Linked DNA regions of Homo sapiens: region 2 is reported to be linked to region 1. Evidence: microRNA targets listed by miRTarBase, many of them from high-throughput screens and not tested one by one. Region 1 holds a microRNA gene; the other region holds the end of a gene's coding sequence. Distances are between the middles of the regions.

Region 1 (11,303 bases):
CAATCCATCAATCTATAGGTTTTTATCGAAAACCCTCTATATGCTTAGCATGTGTCTCTTCTCGATGGTTCTTTTCAAATCCAGGGTTTCCCACCCTCAGCACTACTGACATTTGGGGCTGGATCATTCTTTGCTGTGGAGCTGTCTGTGCACTGTAGGATGTTTAGCCACACCCCTGTTCTCCACTCACTGGGTACCAGTGGTATCTACTCCTCTTTTGTCCAGTTATGACACCAAAAATGTTTTCAGATATTGCCAATATCCCTGGTGAGGCAAAATTACCCTCAGTTGAGAGTCACTGTCATAAACCTACTGCCACTGCTTTCTACATTTTATTTCACAAACTTTTTTGGGTACTTTCTGATAAGAAGAACCTATGAGACACTTTGGACGAGTAGGGAAGGTGGGCTCCAAGTTCTTTATTTGTTATGTACTTGGTTGAGTGAAGCACACAGTTTTCATTTCTAGGGGTGGGTAATATTATGAAAAAAAGGTAGAAATTGGTAAGATTTGATGATAGCTACTGACAGGGTAACTGGGTCAAACTTCAAAGTGGCAATTCTGAAAATGCACTAGCAGTCTGAATCTCCAAGTGATTTTTAGACGTTTTGAAAAATCCAAGAAATTCTAAGACCACCACAGTTTGGAACCATGCCTTGAGTAATAGGCCTGGGATAGACATGAAATTCCTACACTGCATTTAATTAGGAGGTTTTGATCAGGGTTCCAACTGGCATTTGCAGCTGATGTTTGATTAAGAGAAAGTCCTGTCTCAAAATATGAGAAAACTTGAATAATAAAAGCACTGTGCCAATGGCTTTTCATGTATTTGTTTAGAACCTGCCTTGGTTCCAGGAAGGATTTAATGTGGATTTCTATCATTGCATGTGCTGTCTTCATCAATGGTTTAAAATATCAACCAGGGTGAAGATATAAGAGAGGAATATCGAATCATTGCTTAGAAGAAGACTTGAGCAGGCATCTCCTCCTCCTCCATCTAAGCTTCAAAAGAGGCCTCCCCTAACCAGACAGTCCAGTGAGATAATGAATTAATTAGAGACTTGGAAGGGTTAGCATGAGAGCCTTGTCTGTCTTGCCTCTGGCCCTCTGTCTGCTCGGCTAGATCCTGGTTAGGAGCTTTTGGCAGTCCTCAGGTTGGGGATGAGATACCTTGGCAGGCTTGAGTGGGCATCAAAGACACCAGGAAGGATCCCAGCCCAGTTTCTGGCAATTCTATCTGTCACTGGGTTTTATGCCTGTGTTCAAAATATTCCATTTCTCCATCTGTAAAATGGAGATAATCCTTCCTCACCTTGCAGGGATGTTGGGAGGATTAATTAGCTAGTGTTCCTCAAGTGCTTTGAAGATGAAAAGGCTTGTGGAAGTGCTAAGTATTAAGGCAAGGCAGCGAATGCCTGCTGGAAGTGCTCTTCCTTTCCTCATCCTCTTGTCAGCAGTTGTGTTTCTCTTGCCTTTTCTGCATATTTCACAGACCAAAGTGCTGGCATGGTAGGTAGGACAATGCATGGATCAGCACAGAACAAAGACAGTAATGCCTTATTTTATGCCTTGCTACTAACTTGGCTTATCAGTTGGCATGACCTCTGAAGATCTTTTTGCTCTGAATGTTTTAATCATCAAGTTCTGGTGGTTATCCAAGGTGATCCTAATCTACTTTGGGGTGGAGGGAGGAAGTGGTGTCAGGAGAGATCAAACCAGGCCACCTTGAGCTGAAAGCTCTGAAGGAGAAGGATTCCTTGAAATGGAGGTAATTTTTGAATTATAATAAGTGAGAAGACTGCAAGGGAGACAAGCTGAGGGACAAATGCTCTGTGCTTTTCTCCTCACTTTCACAAACAGGAGGAGAACTTCCACTGACCTAGCAGTAGTTTGCTCCTCCAGGCTGTCATGTCTTCTGATCATGTCTTTTATGAGGTGAATTTCTCCTCATGAAAGACTAGACTTTAAGGAGAGATTCTGTGCAGGTCCCTACAGTGTGGAGATGGATTGATTGGGCCTACAGATTGCAGCTAATCAATTCATCCTTTGCTTCCCAAAGGTTTATGCATTTGGGTGGAGTTCACAATGAGTGGTCTGGGTGCAGGGCCGTGTGGAGAAGCATGTCCACCGCTCTTGCCCCGGTGGCTTCTTTAGATAATCTTGCAATCTTCACAGGTTCTTTTCTAGGTATGTTATTGTTTGGAATAACTCCCTTGAGTTTGGAAGAAGAAAAGGAATAGTACCAGGTTTACTCAATCATTTGTTAGTTTGCTTGTTATCTTAAAAAATTCTATAAAATTCTTTTGAGAAGTTTCTCTGCTCATTGATCTTGAAAATCTCCTTGCTTTAGAGAATGGATGTGCTCCTCATATGCTAAGGATAAACCAGATTTTGGTAAATCAGGTTATCTTAGGGGTCCCAGGTGAGTTTGCCATTTTAACGATGCTTAGAGTGAATCCTTGTATAAGGGAAAGTATCTTGTATATTCTGTATCCTTTAGGAACTCACGTCTGTTGACTTTATCAGATGTTGGGGTGGTGGTGAGGCTAAAGACCAATAGGCGACATATGGCAGGATCTTCCCTCCAAGTGACCCTCTGGAAAGGGCTATACTTACTTAATTTTGGTGGAGCTCATCATAGGGTCAGGAAACCAGGGAGAAAGCTGAGCAACTGGTATTTATAGATCTTTCTCTTTAAATCAGGTTTGCTCATGATTTGTCTGGTCTTTATTCTTCTCCATGTCTGAAACTGAGTTCCTTGGATTCCCTTCTCTTCAAAGCCCTCTTGGCAACCTTCTGAGGAATGGCAGAGTTCATTCTGATCCACGTCCGGTGAGCGTAGCTCAACCGTGATGGAGCTTGACCTGTCAAATTCACAGAAAAATGTCCGTTACATATTCCAGCTGTTCCTTAAACATGCTCCCTAAGAGCTAGTTCCATTTGTTAGCTGTCAGAACGATGTGGAGGAATTGCTCCAGACCCTTGGATGTCATCAACCACTTTTGTTTATACACCAGTTATTTTCTCTATTAGCAAATCAATGTTTGGCAAAAAGAAAGCACAGGCTAAGAACTTTTCCTGATGAGTTGCTGCCCCAGCCTTGGAACTCTTCTCAGCCAAAAAAAAAAAAAAAAAAAAAAAAAAAAAAAAAAAAAAAAAAAAAAAAAGAAAGAAAGAAAGAAAGAAAGAAATTGAGGAGGAATTCAGTTTTACATGTTTTCCTTCCTGCTTACATGAACAGAGGAGGCCTACCTGAAGCTGAATCCAAGCACTGCCTTTGACGTTGGTAAAGATGGGGCTCTGAGCTCACATATCACCTTGGAAACTGGATCCTGTTACTGCTGGGAAAGGAATGCTTGGTTGCCAAAAGCATTAAGATAGGGAATGTGGATTCCACCTCTCAGTGCTCCTGCCTTGGATCAATTAGGTAGGATACTACCCAGAGATACAGACATGATGGACCAAGTAACTTCTCCAAACTTTGATTCTCTCTGGATCCCATGGATATGGGAACTGTGATGTCCAGGAGATCCAGAGAGAATCAGAGTTTCAGTGAGTGAAACCTAGAGTGTGTGCTGCTAGGATTTTCCTCATAAACCTGGGTGTTTTATTCTTGTGGGCCAGAAAGTTATTTCATTCCTAAACCCGTGATGTAGACTTCTCAGAAATTCCAGTGGTGTGGAGGATCCAGCTTCTATCAGCTCACAAGAGCTGATTGCACATATCTCTCCCCAACTGCTGTTCAGTGGCATCAAGTTGGTAGCTTGAAATCTGCCATGATGAGAGTATTTACACTATAGAAATTGGCAAATATGGCAAATAAGGGTCCCCACCACCCATGCTTGTGAAACATCTTCCAGCACACCAAGGAAATTATCCTAACACGTAACATCACTTATGGGGGCTGTTTAGCTTCAGGGGAGGAAATCCCCTTTGCTCTGATCTCATTGTGTGTACCTGCTTTGCATAGGCAGACTACCCCTTGTTCTCTCATCTATTAAACTCGACCTGAGAGAGAGCTTCATGAGATGGGTTGTGTGACAGGAGATCACTAGGGTAATGAGTCTGTTCCTTTCGCTGCTCAGCTATATGACAGGTTATTTTACCTCTCTAGGCCTCAGCTTCCTCTTCACTATAATAAAAGTAATTTAGATCATTAAATAATTGCTAAGTTTCCTTGTAGCTTCGACATTCTGCAATTTGATGAGTGCTTGGCTGCTGGAAAATGTCATGTGTTTCAAAGGCTTGGGGCACATGCACATCATTCACAGTGACCAGCTGAGCTCTCTCATTTTCTTTCTGGATCTTGGACTCCCAGTAATTCTACTTTTATCTGGACTTCTATCTTCAGCATGAATGAGCAGGGTGCCTCTAAGTGAGAAGCATAATTGATTAGTTCCTTCCATCTGGGGGTGTCAAAGCACTTTCAAGTCAGTAGTCAGTATCCATCATGGTTGCTCTGCAGGGAAGACTGCCTGAGAGTGCCTGTTTTGCAAGGGACATATCACAGTGGTGGACCAAGGACCCAGAATTATTGACTTGTCTTTTAATCAGAAAAGGGGCTACTTCCTGGTCTTAAAGAAGTTCCAGCTTTGAGATTAATCTGCTGTCTATAACCCCAGATCACTTGGCATGCTCGGCCTGGCTGACCTGCTGACAGAACTTGATATATTTCCCATCTCTCTGACATGGAGATAAACCTGAATAGGATTTTGCTAGTTCAGAGGATTTGGGGATACATGTTTAGGTAAAGTTTTCCTATAAAATTCCTTAAAAGAGGTGTGGTGTGGGTTTTTGTTGGGAATTGAGGCTACACTTAATGGAATGTGGAAGAGACCAAATCCACCTTTATGGGGTGCCTGGATGGAAAAGGTGTACTGATAGGAAGTTGGGACTGACCACAGACTTGGGCTGCTTTGTGATTTTGCTTACAGTCTTGCCAAGACCTAGCATCTGCCAAAATACGTGTCTCTGGGCCCTCTCTACCGAAATGTACACATTGACATGCACCAACTCATGCCGCTGTTGTTATGATTGTGTTTATGAAGCCATTTACTCTTGAATCAAGAACCTGAGTGACTTGCTGAGTGTTTGTAGGTTTATTGTCCACTCTGCCAGCTGACTGGGCTGTGTGTGTTCAATGGCTGAAGCCATGATTCCCACAGCTGAAGGTTTGGTCCATTGAGTCTGCCACCATAAAGCACAAGCTATGTGAAGGGCTGGAAAAGAAATAAATTCTTCTGGGATTAACTCCAAAGCAGAAGTACAGTTCTGTCTTGCACAGATAATAGAGGCTGGGTTCAAACTTCTTGGGGTCAGACTGCCAGCTGTGACCCACATTGGAGGTCTACCATCTTTTCTTGTTGGAATACTTCCTAAGAATATATTTTTTAAAAAATCAAGCACCCCTTGTGTATTTTACATTTGATATCTGAATTTTCTAATCGTAAGTTGAATTCATCACAAAAGTATATTTTCCAGCACATTGTGTATTCTCACAGCTCAAAGTCTGATGCACGGGTCAGCAACATCAGCATCCCCTGGCAGCTTGTTAGAAATGCAGAATCTTGGGTCTCTCTCCAGCCCCACTAAATCAGAATAAGCATTTTAATAAGATTCCCAGGTGATTCACATGCACATTTAAGTCTGAGGAGCACTGGTGTATATCATATACATGCTTTAAGTATATCTTCATTAAAACCTTTCAATTTATGAAAAAATTATTAGATCAGGGTACGTGACCTAACTGCAAAGTCATTTCTTATTGTCAAACCATCAGCCAAGCCAGATTAACTTTTAGTCAGTATAAAGAAAGGGGTTTCTTCATTGATTCAGGTGAATGTGTTAACATGTGTACTTGGCCAATCTTCATCCTTCTGAGTTCTGGTTTTAGGATAAGTAGGCAGCTGGCTGGCCAGATAGATATATAAGGCACAAAGCTGTGCTATGAATTTGTTGCCTGAATAAAATATGGCACTGTGGCCTTCAAATTTTTTTGAAATGTTCTTTCTTTGCCCTGGGAATTTTCCTTCTAAAGTGATGCTGACTCAAATGATACCTCGGTTTGGGGCTGGGGAGATTTTTACTCCTTAGGAAAATGCATCCTCATAAGATTGAGAATAGGTGGGCAATTTCCCTTTCTTTATTAAAGGAGGAGGAAGGCAGCTGTGAAAAAGGGAATATGGAGAAGCAGAGCTGCCACAGAGATGGCAGGTCAGCTTTGGGAGGCATGCATATGGAAGCAGAAAATATGGAAACTGAATCTCTTAAAGCTATCCATATACCTACATACTGCCAGAAAGTCTCTGGGGACCCCAGTGGTAGGTGAGCCCAAGTTTAAGAAAGTTGAGTTGGAGAATCAATTAATGCCCTTTTGGAACTTCCTGGTTTCCAGCCTTTTTATCTCCTTGAATGCACATGTCTCTCTCTCTCTCTCTTTCTCTCTCTGTGTGTGTGTGTTTATAAATAAGAGTCATTAAGCCCCAATTCACCACAACCAAAGCTTTTGCCTGTTCCCTCATCTCCTCTTGAATTCCAACTGCAATTAAATTTATCAAATATTTATTTAATCCAACTGCGCATCAGGCACTACACCAGGCATTGGTGATGTTGAGATGACCAATGGAGACAACAATAGTCATTGTTGATAACGAAGACGCACACACTTGTGGAATTCTATAGAGATTTTCAGAAGAAGGGATGGCAAGCAACTTCCAATGTTATCCTTGGAAATCAACTCCTTATTAGGGGGGAAGTTCCTAAAGAAAGGATAATGAAGTCTGCTAAAGAAAAGATGCATCTGCCTGTGTGTACTGGGGGATGTGTGTGTGTGTGTGTGTGTGTGTGTGTGTGTGCACACGTGCGCGCGCGCTATACAGATCAAACCATTGCAGACCTGCAATGTTTTCCAAGTGCTTTAATGTTTAATTCTCTTTGATTTGATCCACGGCGTCATCAAGTATTCCTGCGGGCAATTCCAAGGTGTCTGAGGACCCTTGCTGGGTATCAAAATCCAGTAAGACCTTTGGAGAAATTGAAGAAGGGGAACTTTATTGGTTTTTAGGCCAGTCTTATAATTTAATTCTGTTTTTTGTCTGAAACACACATGCACGGAATCTTTTATCGTCTGTTAGGCATGTGTCCTACCAATCACAAGACTTAAGATGAGAAAAATAAGCAAATGTTTGATGGAGAGAAAACAGCCGTTGGAATCCTGTGGCTGTTCCCACACTGGGGGGATCAGGCAAACCCAGGATCCATGCATTAGAAAAGAATGGTGCAGAGAGAGCTATTGTCCCCTTTGAGCTGTGGCCCATAGTAAATTGTTGACTCTGATCCTAGGGTCAGGTTATTGCTGAGTTGCTGTTAGCATTAATAATTATATAATGGCCTTCCCATTTTTCTACCCCATGTGGATCATTTTGGGTGTTTGTGGTGAGAATGTTCTCTAGGTGGCATCACGGAACTTCTCACCAGTGCTGTTTGGGGGACCCTTGGGCCCAGTCTCCTCCTTCCATGCCTGACATTGCAGCTTGACCTACAGCACTTGCTGCCTTTTCCCCCTCACTGTAACCACTTTGGTTAACTTGGCTGAAGGCTGCAAGCCTCATGAAAGAGGTTCATGGCTATGAACACCCAAAATGATCTCAGATTCAGATTATGCACATATTTTTCCTTCCTTCCTTCCTTCCTTCCTTCCTTCCTTCCTTCCTTTCCTCCATCCCTCCCTCCCTCCCTGCCTTCCTTCCTTCTTTCTCCTTCCTTCCCTTCTTCCTTCCCTTCTTTCCCTCCCCTCCCTCCCTTCCTTCCTTGCTTCCTTCCTTCCTTCCCTCCCTCCCTCCCTCCCCTCTTTCTTTTTCTTTCTTTCTTTCTTTCTTTCTTTCTTTCTTTCTTTCTTTCTTTCTTTCTTTCCTTTCTTTCTTTCTTTTTCTTCTCTTTCTTTCTTTCTTTTTCTTCTTTCTTTCTTTCCTTCTTTCTTTCTTTTTTCTTTCTTTCTCCTTTCTTTCTCCTTCCTTCCTTCCTTCCTTTCTTTCTCTCTCTCTCTTTCTTTCCTTATTTATTGGGTGCTAAACATTTATAGCGTAAAATGTTTATTTTAAAAAACATTTAAAAATAACAGCTTTATTAAGATATAGTTCACCCATTTAAAGCGTACAGTTTAGTGGTTTTTAGTGTATTCACACAGTTGTGTAGCCATTACTACATCCATTTGTAGTCACTCCCCATTTACTCCTCCCCGCAGCCTCTGACAACCACCGATGTACTTTTTGTTTTCAAAGATTTGCCTATTCTGGACATTTCATATAAATGCAGTCACACAATATGTGATCCTTGGTGTCTGACTTCTTTCCCTTAGCATGATGTTTTCAAGGTTCATTTATGTTGTAGCATGTATCAGTATTTCATTCCTTTTTATGGATTAAATACATTCCATTCTATGGATATACTACATTTTATTTGTCCATTTATTCATTGATGGACATTTGAGCTGTTCCCACCTTTTTGCTATTATGAATAGTGATGCTATGAATATTTGTGTGCAAGTCTTTGTGTGGACATATGTTCTCATTTCTTCTCTTATATACCTAAGGAGTGGAATTTCTGGGTCATATGATAACTCCATGTTTAACCCTTGGAGGAATAGATTATGCATTTTTGACTTGTTATTGTCCCATGAGGTCTGAAGTTAGGAAAGGTAGGGAGAATAACTTCTTATGGGGTAGACATCAATGGATCTCAGCAGTGCCCAGGCTGGCAGTGCCATTTTTATGAGTGTAACAAGTTTATCTTCTTCAGCCCTTTGAGGCCTCATTTTCCAGAGACTACTGGCCCTCCTGGGTCTGTGACCCTGGCCAGAACTAGGATTTTTTATTTTTAACCTCTCATAAGGGATTCCTACGAAATATGACCCACTAGAGTGCTTGGTGGACTGTCAACTCTGTATCTGTGGGGAACAAAATCCAGCTGTTCAGCTTGGTTAGCTGCTGTCTCATCTGGAACTGCCTTTCCTAGGTTTATTTCCCCAAACAATGGCCCAAGTTGTAGGCTTGTGGTTGCCAGCCCCCTTTAATTTGGTCCTTAGTTGCATAGTCTGTTATTTGTGCTGTGACTGGCTGTGATTGAAGGGGTATGCTTTTTCCTAAACTCAACAGTGTAGTAAGATGCTTGGTGGACTCCAATAATTCATCTATCCCATGGAGAATGTGAGGAGTGTGTGTAGTGATGGTGAGGGGCATGGCACACTGAGGGGAAAGTACCTTTAAAACAGAATACTGAATTTAATATCAGATCAGGCTGATGTTAAACCTCTGCTTTCCATATGAGAACACTTTCCCAGGGGATTTAATTGTAAAATGACAAAAGGGTCTTAGTGCAATTTCACTGACAAATGGCCTTCTGGTGTGGATTTCCATGACGCAAGCAGAGCCAACTAAGAGCTTCGTCACTTATGTTCCTGGAGCACATAGAACAATTTTCTCCCATTTTGTTGAACTTACTTGAACTTGGGGTAGAATACCTCCCTGGACTTATACTACCAGCAGGTTTAGGCTCCCAGTTTCATTTATGTGTCTTCATCCCATGTATAGCAGTGGCTCCCACCATTGGCAAAGACTGAACTTGAAATGCCTTGCTCTGGAATTCAAGACCATCCGTGATTTAGAGTATAGTGGATAAGGATGACAGCTATGAAGCTACACTACCCAGGGGGTAAACACAGCTTTGTGTGACCCTGGACAAACAATTTAACTTTTCTAATCTGTGGAATAGAAATAAGAATACTACCTACCTCATGTGGTTGTTGGGAGGATTAAATAGGTTGACAAATGTAATATATTAGAAAGGTGCTTAGTCAGTGCTTAGCTGTGTTTGTTGTTATTCTTATCCTATGTTCTGTCCACTCATGGCTGTTGGCCCTGCTCAGATACCATCTCTTCTATGAAGCTGTGCCTGAGTGTGTCTTCCTTACTGCTTTGTACACAGTACCAAACATAGTGCCTAGCATGTAATAGATACTCAATAAATATTTGTTGAATGAACAATGAATGAATATTTGTTGAATGAATGCATTTTCCCACTTGGGAGCAATCCACTCTTCCTCTATGCTTTTATATCACTTTGCCTCTACCTCGTTTTATGGAGTTTTCTACATTTAACCTTTATTTTAGCTAATTATGCTTTAGATGCAACCCCTTCTCCAGAAGGTCAGCCCTTGGATAATAGTGCCTGGGTCAATTGTTTTGGTATTTCCTGTTAGGACTTGCATGGAGGGCAATAAATATTTGGTAAATAATTCATCCCCTTTGGAAACAATGTTCTTAAACCATTAAATTGCTAGGTGTTTTTTTTTTTTAATTAACCGAACACAAACACAGAGACATATGCATGCAGAGACAGTATCCCTCTAACAATTTCATGACATGTTGCCTTCTTTTTTGTTTTCCTAAAGGAAGTGATAAAGGTAAAAGTTGAAGAGGTGGGCGACAGTGGGAGCCAGAGACTCAAAATAAATAAAAATGTGAGTTCAGTTCAAAGAACAGGTTGATATTAAAGTTTTATTGGAGTTCAACAATTTCAGAAAATACATAGGTTTCATTCTTCTTTGAATTCCTTCAAATGTTATTTTTGCTCCCCCTTTTTTTTTTGAGACGGAGTCTCGCTCTGTTGCCCAGGCTGGAGTTCAGTGGCGCAATCTCGGCTCACTGCAAGCTCTCCCTCCCAGGTTCACGCCATTCTCCTGCCTCAGCCTCCCGAGTAGCTGGGACTACAGGCGCCCGCCACCACGCCCGGCTACTTTTTTTTTTTTTTTTTTTTTTTTTTGTATTTTTAGTAGAGACGGGGTTTCACCATGTTAGCCAGGATGGTCTTGATCTCCTGACATTGTGATCTGCCCACCTCGGCCTCCCATAGTGCTCCCCCTTTTAAATAAAAGCTCACAAAGCCCCTTGGTTGTCTGAAAAATAATGGAATATTTGACTTGAGTTCTGGGATTGGAAGCTAGTCACTGTTGCTGTGCTTCTTTGGTTCATAGCTGGAAATGCTGTGGTTGTCTAGTGGGGAGCTGGGCCTGCCTATTCTAGGGCATGGCTGGTTAGAGAGAATGAGAAGTCACTTGGCTGGTGGTCCAACAGATCAGAGCAGAGTTAGTCCACACACAGGCCAGGCTCCTTCCTGGATGCCTAGAGGAAAGGTGGCAGGTCAAAGGGAGATGGATGCCAACTGGCACCTGAAAGGATCCCTGCACTTGGTTTAGGATCAGATAACATTTGACCAAACTGGAAAGTAGAGAAGTAAGTTTTACTGAA
Region 2 (11,303 bases), 140 Mb from region 1:
TGAAATGAGAGAGCACATATGTATGAAAACTAAGACAGGAGCTTACACCAGGCTCAGAGTCAGATGCACTCAGGGTATAATGGGTGAAGCATCTGGTTGCTCTCGACAGTCTCACTTTGAGGACTCTAACAACCACCCTCCCACGCTGCATTTCTTTTCCCACCTAATGAGAATAGCAGGTCTTTGTTTTGAGGGGCAGCTCCCCAGTGCCGTATCTATACTCTGGCCAAAGGTAGAAATACAGTACAACTGCGCTATAATGCTCTGAGTAAGGTCTAGAAGATTGACTCATGCAAAATGCACATCAAGTTATTGTGAGGTCCTGAAATGATATCTGGGGCTTGGGCAGAGGATCGTTATAGAGTTTGCCCTACCACTCAAATGCTTTGGGAGGTATGCTTCCTTTACACCTCTCAAATGTGCTTCTGGTCTTCTGGCTTAGGAAGTCAAAATTTAAACCTAGTCCTCTATGGAAAAATGGGCTCCTGTAACATCCTGCAGAATTATTAAAATAAAACAAGGACCTAGATGGATAACTTTCATTTGCACTCACTCAGCTCCAAATCAGCATGATCCCCAAAGTCTCTTGCAGCTCAGAAATTCCATGAAGCTAGCTTACTTTTCCTAACAAGAAAATCCCCTTCTAGAAATGCCCATCCGCTATTTGTAAACTTTCTTAGTAAACTGATAAATAGATCATTTGCCCTTAAAACAAACTTTTAATTTCAACTCTGAAAGACATGCATATATGTCCTTCAGAATCTTACCTTTTAAAATGGAAACTGCTTGGAAGTGGCTTTTACCTGGGGAATATGACATGCATGTGTCTGTTATACTGCCTTCCTGCCAAAATAAGTGTGTCTTTAGGCACGCTCTTTGCATATTCTATTGCTAACTACATTTTGCCAGACACTGCTTGTGAATGCAGTATGTGTGAGACCACTGCCCAGCTTCCTGTAGTGCTAGTCCTACATTTCCACAGAACTCCTCACCTAGCCAAATTCTTGAGCGCTTTGCAGTCAGCAGCACTACCTGAGGCTCTGCCTGAGTGTCACTTTAGTTGTCTTGCAGAAAGCTTCAGATGTCCTTGGTTCTATTTAGGTTGTGCAAATAGACATATGAGGTTTGGTTCTGGTTAGTGGTTGCTAGTACCAGATCACCTTGCTTACTGGTGAGTTCATTCAAACCCAAAAAGTCACACCTGTGTCCTGTGCGCGGGTGCTGCAGGCTTAGGTGGAGAAAAGCAGGGCTAGAATTGGAACCCAAAGCCCAGAATGGCAGGAGAGGATGTGGGGGCTCCACCCGATCACCTCTGGGTTCACCAAGAGGGTATCTACCGCGACGAATACCAGCGCACGTGGGTGGCCGTCGTGGAAGAGGTAACTGTTTACATTTTGCTTATTTCTTTGATTTTGCTTTCAAGTAACTTGGTTTCTATTCCAGTCTCAATATTCTGAAGTCTTTGGTTTTATTTTTGATCATTCCTTTCCATTAGGAGACGAGTTTCCTAAGGGCACGAGTCCAGCAAATTCAGGTTCCCTTAGGTGACGCAGCTAGGCCAAGTCACCTTCTTACCTCCCAGCTACCTCTCATGTGGCAACTCTACCCGGAGGAGCGCTACATGGATAACAACTCTCGCTTGTGGCAGATACAGCATCATTTAATGGTACACATGTTGCTTAATTATTTTCCATTGTACTGGGACTCTCGTAACAGAGTACTCCATAAACTTTTCTTTTTCTGACAGGTCAGGGGAGTACAGGAGCTGTTGCTTAAGCTTTTGCCTGATGACTAACCTGGTATGTATTTCTATTTCTCCTCTGTCCTCCCCCTCTTTGTTTTGGCTCTATTCAGTTGTGGTGATTTTAATGATTTTTTTTTCCAGGTGCTGGGATTCTACGAAGATATGCTCCTTTGTTCTGTTCAGTATTTGGCAATCACTTCATCCACTACTGCAGTGCACCCACCCTTGGGCCTGGGGGGAGGGAGTGGGTTGAAAAACTGCTCAAGAAACAGAAGTTTAGCAAGGGTCATGAAGAATACTGCAAGTGAAACTGCAGAGAGAGGTTACGTAGGCAGAAAGCAAGTCAACAAAAGCACTTAGTCAGGATCCGTAACTTGAAATTGACTCCTTTGGAAATTGCCATAGAACCCTTAATGGACATCATCGGCTGGACCTGGGATCTGATGAATCCCACAAAAGTCAGCACCTTCTACAGAACAGATGCCCTGATCACCAAGGACTTGGTACTGATTTAGAGAGAAGAGAGCAGCTCCTAGCAGCATCAACATCTATTTGTCGCTTATTTGCCCTGCAGCAATTCACCTGCCTTTCCTTCTCCCATCCTGTAAATATCCTAGGTTTTGCTCCAGTGTTTCCCATCCCAGTACTGACCTAATTTGGATCTGCTGAGTATTTAGAGGGCTCTGAAAAGAGATATGCATTGATGAAATTAGCTACAAAGGCTTGTGGGCCTTTTTTTCTATCTGAAATCGTGTCTTCAAATTACTGGAAGTTGCTGATCAAAATTGTGGGCTCTTGAATTCATTCTCTGATTACAGATATTTTAAATAAGCTGGTTTCTATAAGAACTTCAAGAAAAACCATTTTAGCTGCTTAACTGGCACCTTTCTCAGGAAGTAATAACACCAAATATTGCTGATTCCTAGGAAAACATTTACTACTTGTAAAGAATTTCCTGAGTTAAAGTAGTTATAACAGTTTATATACATTAAAAGTAAGGTTTTACTTTAAAAAAAAAAGTCTTGGGAATAATAGCTACCATGTATTGGAGTCCTTTCCAGGCACTATTGTATGTACTTTATATACTTTATCACATTTAATCCTCCTGTCAATGCTTTGAGGTAGGTATGATTCCCATTTTATATATGAGTAATAAAAAAAGCTCAAGGAGTTTAATCATTTATCAAGGGTTTCTTCTGCGAATGATAGAGCCAGGCTGCGCCGTCGGCTCCTCTAGCCTAACGTTGGTTTACAGTATTCAAAAAGAGTTGATTGAATTCAAGGTTTTTTTTCCATGTAAAGCTATTTATATCTTCCAAGCCTAATGAAATGGATATTATAAAAATACAGTTGATTCATCCTATGTTTGGGAAGAGTATTTTTAGTGTAATTATTTTCCAGCAATTGTAAGGGCATATACTGCTTGTCTCAGAAGAAAATTCCACGTAGAGGGGCTTTAAAGTCTTTATGGAAAAAAGAAAAATAAAAATCATTTTTCTTGTTTTAGTTTTCTGGATATGCCGCAGAAGGATCCGTGCCAGAAGCAAGCCTGTGAGATACAGAAATGTTTACAAGGTAGTATATTGTAAAATGCTTTAAAAATATTTTTCCACTGTGAACTAACTATAAGAGACCAATTATTCTTTTATCTGTATTAACTCTTTTTTAAGAATGTAACGTATATGTAATTATCCTGAAGATTCTCTTCATTGTATCATCAAAGATGCAGAAAATAAAAAGTAATGTGATCAAAGCTAGGGGTTTTCACTCCAGGTGATTAGCATCACCTGGAGATCTTTAAACACTTACCTAGAACAATTCAGACTTCCTAGGGCTAGGGCTAGGAAAAAAAGGGTTTTTTGTTGTTGTTGTTTGTTTTTACTAAAAGGCTAGTTTTAAATTGGTTGGTTATACTTCACTGCAGCTGACAATTCACTTTTTAAAAGCAATCTGGAAGAGGTGCGGTTGAAATAACAATTGGAATTCAGGCTGCCAAAGTCATCAACTAACTCTTAAAGGCAGAAGTGAATCTCGACTAAAGCATATTTGAGGTGATTTGTCCATTTGTCCAGCTGCTAAGTTTGACCAAATGTTAGAGGATTTTAGTTTTCTAATCAGTGAATGACTGTTGCCAGAAGAGCAAATAGAAAAAGCTATAAGGCTATCTGAATTTGAAAAAATTTTAATAAGTTTTCCTCACTAGTAAAGTAATAGATGGAGATGGAAGGTCATGAAAATATAGAAAGGTATGAAGGAAAAATGTTCAGAGTTCCCCCAAAGATTCACCACCAAAGAAATCCTTTGTTTGTGTATCTCCTTGGACTTTTAGCTTTCATTCTTGGACTTTTCATTTTTTGATGTTAGCAATATTTTATAAAATCTTTTAGATTAAAATCTGGATGTATAATAATGCCATTTTAGTCAAACTTCTTCCCTCCAACTTTAAGGAAAAGGAAAAAGTTTTTTGCATTTAATTCCTTCTCCCAAATAAAACCTTACCTTGTTTGAAATAACCCATAGCTAAGGGAAAAAAATAAGTTAAAAAGAGCTGGTGACACCCCCTTGGCAGTGTGGGAGGATTAAGAACTGGAAAGACTAAAAGATGACAAGCACCGTTATAAGGACTTTATACGTATTAAGCCTTTCATCCATGAGGTAGATGCTACTATGACCCCCATTTCATAAAGGGGAAAACAGACACACAAGTTATGTAATTTGACTAGGGTCACATAGCTAGTAAGAGGTATGGTGGGAATTTGAACACCCCCCGCCAACCCCGCCCTTGGTCTAGCTCCAAATCTGGACTGTTACCCACCTTGCTATACTGCCTTTCTAATCAGAATTGTCTTTCCTATCCTGAGCTAACTACCATGTACTCCATTTTAGTACTGGGGGACTCATTAACTGCAGCTGACCTAGAGTCTTTAGGTCAGGTCCTCCTTAACTTAGTGTTTATGTATAGTAGGGATCTGCAAATGTTTTATGAAAAAGGCCAAACAAGTAATATTTTAGGCTTTGGAGGCCAAAGGCCTTTGTTGTATATATTGTGTATGTGTTGTGTGTTTACAACCCTTTAAAAATTAAAATCCATTTTTAGCTCCCAGCTGTAAAAACCGGCTGAATTTGACCCTAAGGCTGCAGTTTGCCAATTCCTGATGCACAGCCTTAGTAGGGGAGGTCCAACAATCAGCTTAAACTGTATGCAAAATAATGTGTGGTGTATGTGCATTTTCCTAATTCATCAAATTAGTGACCAGTAATAAAAATGATGTTAAAAACCAATGTCCTAGAAAAAGGTGCATACATGCTATTAACCTTAAAGGAAATTATATATTAAAATAGCTTTCAACCACTTTGTAAATCATACTTTCCCTAACGAACCTGTCGACAGGTCTCTAAATTAGAAAGAATTCAGTGGACTTTGGTATATCTTCTTTCTTCCAGTTCCATAGGTACTGAAAGTGAAAAGGGGTGGGAAGCACTGATCTAAACCTCCCTGTACCTTAGTCCTATGAGATCATGACTAGAGTCTGCCTGTATGTTTTTCAGCCAACAGCTACATGGAATCAAAGTGTCAGGCTGTCATCCAAGAACTGCGTAAGTGTTGTGCTCAGTATCCCAAGGGAAGATCTGTCGTCTGTTCAGGATTTGAAAAAGAAGAGGAAGAAAACCTAACACGGAAGTCTGCATCAAAGTAAAGTTCTTCTGAAGTGCTGCTCCATGTTTCCACCAAATGAATTTTTTTTATCCTCCTGACTCTTCAGGCCAGGTAGCAGCAAATAGCAAATGAAAAAGTCAGCTACAAAAGTTAATGAATATGCCATCTATGCAGAACAGGCAGAAATATAAACACATTAAAAGACAAATATGTAGAATGTAATATACTGAGCTGCTAAAATAAACCTGTTTAAGAGAAAAATTTGGGTTTTGTACTAAATGTATTTTAAGACTATTAGATATAGGGTATTAATGAATTCTCTTGAAGTTCAAGCCACTAGTGCCATTCATCAAATTTAAGTCATATGAGGTATGTTAGGTGAAAGGACTCACTTCCAGCATCACAATTTTGACGCCCTTTTTTTTTTTTTTTTTTTTTTTTTTGAGATGGAGTCTCACTCTGTCATCCAGGCTACAGTGCAATGGTGCGATCTCGGCCCACCGCAACCTCTGCCTGCCGGGTTCAAGCAATTCTGCCTCAGCCTCCCAAGTAGCTGGGATTATAGGCATGCACCACCACGCCTGGCTAATTTTTGTGTTCTTAGTAGACGGGGTTTCACCATGTTGGTCAGGCTGGTCTTGAACTCCTGACCTCGTGATCTGCCCGCCTCGGCCTCCCAAAGTGCTGGGATTACAGGCGTGAGCCAATTTTGATACCTTTTATAGATTACATGCTAAACTAATTCAAAGTTTCCTTTAAACTAACTCATTACCTTTTGTACTTCCAAAAATGCAGAGCAAAAAGTGTCTTTCCAGATGCCAGTAAGAGCATTTCTTTCTGCTTTTGCATCCCCACTGCAGCGACTAACCAGGTAGGAAAGGCATAGAAATGATTCTTGTAATGCTTAATGATCCTTAATTTATCATGAAGGAACTGAAGAAAAAATTTTCATTGGAAGTCAGGTAGGCAGCAAGATAATTCAAACTTAGTTGGTTTATCTATTCTTTATATCCTGATAATAAAAACCTGTTACAGAGGATCCAGACAACATTAATACAAAGCTGCTGAATGAAGCCTGTTGACAGCTGTCAGTCACTTTATGAAGTAGGAGGAGGCAGCATGCAACAGGCCATTTGCTTTCCTCAAATGGATGCTTGAACCACCAAAGGCTGTCCTCTAAAAAAGAAAAAGATGACTAAAAGCAGGAACAATTTCTGCTAGGTCCCTGATGTTAAAATACCATGATTATTTGAGACCAACTGTTTTCTTTAAAGCAGCATTACTCAAAGTGTTTCTAGGAATTGCTGTAACCGGAAGAAAAAAAAAAGGCTTCTCTGGTCAGGTAAGTTTGGGGAATGCTAGGTTGCATACAAGTACACAGGTTAATTTCCTGTCAGACTTCAGAGCTTTCAAAAAACCTAAGTGAACCTGTTTTGCAGACAGCATCTCTGTGTGTGAATGCTCTCCAGAGCGACTTAAAGAAATGCTGCCTTAGAGACGTTTGGTCCACAAACCAGAGTGACAGAGCTAAATCCCCATGAAATTTAAATGACGTCTTGTGTTAATAATAACACAATAAAACATCATACAACTTTAATGTTACACCATCTACAAATCTAAATTACATTTAAAATTATCAGTTGACAGTTGTACTAGGATTTACATTAGGAATCACTACATGATCAAATAGATTGTTTTTCTGTGTTTTATTGCCAAGTTATTTTTACTGAGTTAACTACTCCAGTTTCAGACTCTTTTAAATGTTTTTATGCTAAAGTATATGTATTAGTCCATTGTTGCATTGCTATAAAAAGTGCCTGAGACTCGGTAATTTATAAATAAAAGAGGTTTAGTTGGCTCACAGTTCCATGGGCTGTACAGGAAGCATGGCACTGGTATCTGATGGGCTTCTGGGGACGCCTCAGGAAACTTACAGCCATGGCAGAAAGCAAAAGGGGAGTGAGCACTCCACATGGCCAAAGCAGGAGCAAGAGAGAGTGAGGGGTGAAGTGCCAGATCTCATGAGAACTCACTATCATGAGTGAAGTACCAAGAGGGGATGGCCCCCACGATCCAATCACCTCTCACCAGGATCCACCTCCATTAGGGAATACGGTTCAACATGACATTCGGTGGCTCCAAACTGTATCAGTATACGACTTTCTTTCAGTTTTGAAAGGTTCAAATCAGTTCCTTCTTTTAAAGGATTGTGTCAGTTTAAGTCAACAAATCCATTTGAAGACATTAATTTAACTCTTCTTATTCTTAGGTATTATTATGACATACAAAAAAATAAAATAGCCATCATAGAAGGCTTAACATTTACTGAGTGCTTCTTATTGTTAGGGACCAAGAGTAACACTGAATCTCAGTCTTAAGCAAAGAACTCTAGGAAGGTGAAAACTATGATCTCCCATTTTAGAAACCAAAAAAAAAAAAAAACTTTGTTAAGTTGGCTATTAGTGATGCTAAGTTTAATCACTTGGTTAGTGACTGACAGACCTTTTAGCTAGAAAGGTAGTTTTCCCTTCGTAATGGGTAAGTCATTTGTGGGGTGATATCTTGTCACTCCTTTCCTTGCATTCACTCCACACGATTCCTAAGACATTTAATGAACTATAATATTACACTTGTGTTCAGTATTCAGAAGGCATCTGAAGTTGTATGGCACTTAATATAAAAGGCTTTAAAGCCCTCTTAAGGAGTTAACAGCAAAACTCTTAATTTTTTCAGCACCAGCTTCCAACTGTGTACTTCAGTGGTTCTCAGTCTCTGCTGCTCATTAGAAAAAGCTAAGACACTTTAAAACCTCAGGATGCCTGAACAGCACTCCAGACCAGTGAAATCAGAATCTCTAGGATGAGAGCCAGGCATTAGTAGTTTTTAAAATTTCACAGGTGATTCCCAAGTGCAAGCAAGGATGAAAGCCACTGCTCTCAGGAATGTCATTTCTTACCATTTTAAAATTTAAAAAGGTAGACACTTTTGAAAAGTCAGTAAACTGACTTTAAAGCTTTATAAAAATGTGAAAAAGTGCGACACTTTTCTTTTAAAAAAAAAAGTATTAAGATTCATGACCCCTTAAAAAGAATGCAAGCATCGGAAATATAAGCTATACCATATGACTTCTAGAAAAATCAGGCTCAGAACTAAAATAGGTTTTCTGCCCAATTACTCAGATGTTAGTGTGACCTCTTAGAAAATTGGGCAGAAAATGTATTTTAGTTCTGGGCCTGATTTCTGAGAAATCATACTAGATTTCATGACAAAGAAATGAAGCTGATAATTTGGTAGAGGGAGTAGAGGGCAGCAGCCACATTTTTCTCTGGGGTCCAAAACTGGCTGTGAGCTTCCCTCTGAGAAGAAATTGAGATCATCATGAAACATTGATGATACTCAGAAATTTCAAATCCATCAGTATACCATCTTTTCAAGCAGAGATTCCCAAACTGTACAAAAGTAGAGGTTCCAAATAAGAGCCCAACCATTAGTTATGCCCATCTTTCTGACAACCGTGAAACAAAAGAATGATGGAGAGACTATTCTTACCACAATAGTTGTTAACTACACAGTAACTTTGCTTTCCAAAACCAGAAGCACCCACCCCAAGAGCATGTTGGCTAGAATTATGCAAGAGATCATTCCTTGTAGAATCTAGTCCGCCAACTTGAATCGTCTTCTGCCAGCATCCATGAGACAGTAACTGCCCAGATCCAGTAGCAAGGACTGTCACCCCAGTGGTAGGGGAGTCAAGAACCCCACTGTCCTGTTAATGAATGTCTGGAGGCTGAGTGGCGGGAGATTGCAACAAACAAGCGGCCATTTGGGAGGAGAGTCATGCTAACATATTATCACAATGGCAATAACACTCATGACAATGGGCTGCTCAGGCAAGGGTCCCCACCACCACATCTCTCCCCGCACCCAGCTCCCGTGTCAGCAATGAGGATACACATTCTTGGGGGAGACTGAAACATTGGACTCCATCTGTTGAGCCCGAGCAGGCAGCGGCCAGAAAGTGCCCCTGGATCCGTCTCTGCTCTCCGACTCTGGGGAGAACCTTGGGAAGAAGAGACTCAAAAGTTCTACCTCTCCTGTAGCATGCTCCAAGTCCCCATCCCACCAGGTCCCATTGCGGGAGAGACGCTGGGTCAAAGGGTGGCTCAAAGTGGTGAGGACGCAGGGCCGACCCATAGTAGCCAGGAAGGGGACAGAAGGGGTCCCTGAGCCGGGACACTGTCCAGCACGCTGCAGGACAAGGGAAGGGAAGCCTTCACTACGTAGATGCCATCCTATTGGTTGACAAGTTGGAAGCCTTGAGTGCGGTGTTACCACGTCGCCGCCACAAGGGGGCGATGAAACCCCGAACACATTCCAAGTCAAGTTTCTGCGGACCATATACAGCGACAACGCTCTTCCCAAGGAAAAACTTCCGCCCCACCACCACTAATTAGGAAGTCCAGAGCGTCATTGGACTCTGCTACTGGAGAAAATACGTGCCTAGCTAAGCAGGCCTCTCCAGTCAAATGAAAGTAGTGCACTGAAAGGTGGAGCTGCCTGGTCCTTGAATCATCTCGGTTTTGCATGGAGGAGTGGCAGCTGTTCTTTTGGGGGAAACCTTAACTCCCACTTCACCACCTGAAACAAAACTGCTGGCACAATAGGGCCTTGATTCACAGGTAACCCCAAATGCCTGAGCCTCCTTCACCGATGGTTCAGCTAAACTGAAAACAAGGTGTGCAGCTGTGCGTGTTCAACCTCCATGCCAGCTCTGCACAATCCCAAGTGGTCACAGTGGCCTCACACCGTGGGCAGAACTCACAGCCGTTCTCATACTAGCAGGATGAGGCCAACCTGCAATACTGACCTCAACCATGACCCTCACAGTCGTAGAGGCAGCCAGCTGGGAAAAAACTTCAGGAGGGACCTACCTACAGATCTTAATTCAGACAATCAGAATACAGTCTGAGGCCAGACTATTTATTACAACCTACTCAAGGTAGTTTACAACCACCTGCTAATCTTTGCTGCCCTCACCAATAATCACAGGAAAAACAGATGCACCAAAAGACAACCCCTACCCCACTGGAGAGGCATTGGGTGGCCAGTCTCCCCACATGCAACCCAAAGGGGCACAGAGCACTTTGGTTAGCTTTGCTGTTACCATCCCATTGCTGTGGGTAAGTCACACAGGTAAAGTGGCTGCAGCCACTATCACCATATATGGCATAACCCAGAGACCCAGATGTCAGGAGAGGCAGAGTGTGGGGAAGCAGGAAACAGATGACTCAGTGTCACTACATATGTCTATATCAATATATATAGAGATATAAATATATAGCAAGCAAAAAAAAAAAAATAGAGGAGGATCTATAAGGTTAAGAGACTTATCCAAATCATGCAAATACGATGTGAACCTTGCATGAATTTTGATTCAAACAAACTAAATATAAAACACTTGAGGAAATTTTGAACACTGATCAGATTTTGGATATTATGTAATTACTGTTAATGTCTGATATGATGAGGTATTTATGATTTTTAGAAATAATTCTTACCTTTTAGAGATACATACTGAAATATGATAAAATGACATTTTGATATTTGTTTCACAATAACTGGTAAAAACCAGCAGAGCTATAATTTGATGATTGTTGTGAGTGAGTGATAGATACACAGGGGGATTATTGTACTATATTCTCTACTTTTATATATTCCTGAAAGCGTCCATAATAAAAAGTGAAAAAAAATAAGTTCTTATAGCAAAATATGCAGCAAAGAGGCTCATACCATTATGGTTTTGAGATGATTCATACATATTGCAAGCAAAATGGCTTATGTTTCCTTAAATGTAAGGAGAAAAACGCAAATAGGTGGTTTCTGTAAAGTTCCACACATCCA

What was found. Region 1 holds the annotated microRNA hsa-miR-4768-5p (AUUCUCUCUGGAUCCCAUGGAU, at 3,485-3,506, shown strand). A microRNA usually pairs through its seed, bases 2 to 8, with sites in the 3' UTR of a target mRNA and lowers its output. Matches are read on the target gene's strand: a 7mer-m8 pairs with bases 2 to 8, a 7mer-A1 pairs with bases 2 to 7 and ends in A, and an 8mer does both.
Region 2: miRTarBase lists CMC4 as a target of hsa-miR-4768-5p. Seed matches in the 3' UTR shown: 7mer-A1 at 5,655-5,661.

The regions. Positions count from the first base shown.
Region 1 is chrX:17,422,405-17,433,707 of GRCh38, forward strand. It overlaps MIR4768 (microRNA 4768), which reads left to right and starts at 3,477; the gene lies at 3,477-3,550. The region is part of intron 1 of NHS (NHS actin remodeling regulator); the gene reads left to right.
Region 2 is chrX:155,055,982-155,067,284 of GRCh38, reverse strand. It overlaps CMC4 (C-X9-C motif containing 4), which reads left to right. Exons shown (of 3, transcript NM_001018024.3): 2 at 3,252-3,319; 3 at 5,294-5,663. The coding sequence starts at 3,262. The coding sequence ends at 5,442. It overlaps FUNDC2 (FUN14 domain containing 2), which reads right to left. Exons shown (of 5, transcript NM_023934.4): 5 at 6,981-11,303. MTCP1 (mature T cell proliferation 1) reads left to right here. Exons shown (of 5, transcript NM_001018025.4): 2 at 1,228-1,379; 3 at 1,496-1,666; 4 at 1,748-1,799; 5 at 1,886-3,251. The coding sequence starts at 1,275. The coding sequence ends at 1,795. Among named protein-coding and RNA genes, the nearest start is that of CMC4, 9.5 kb to the left of the region's middle. RefSeq lists enhancers at 9,557-9,851, 9,516-10,017.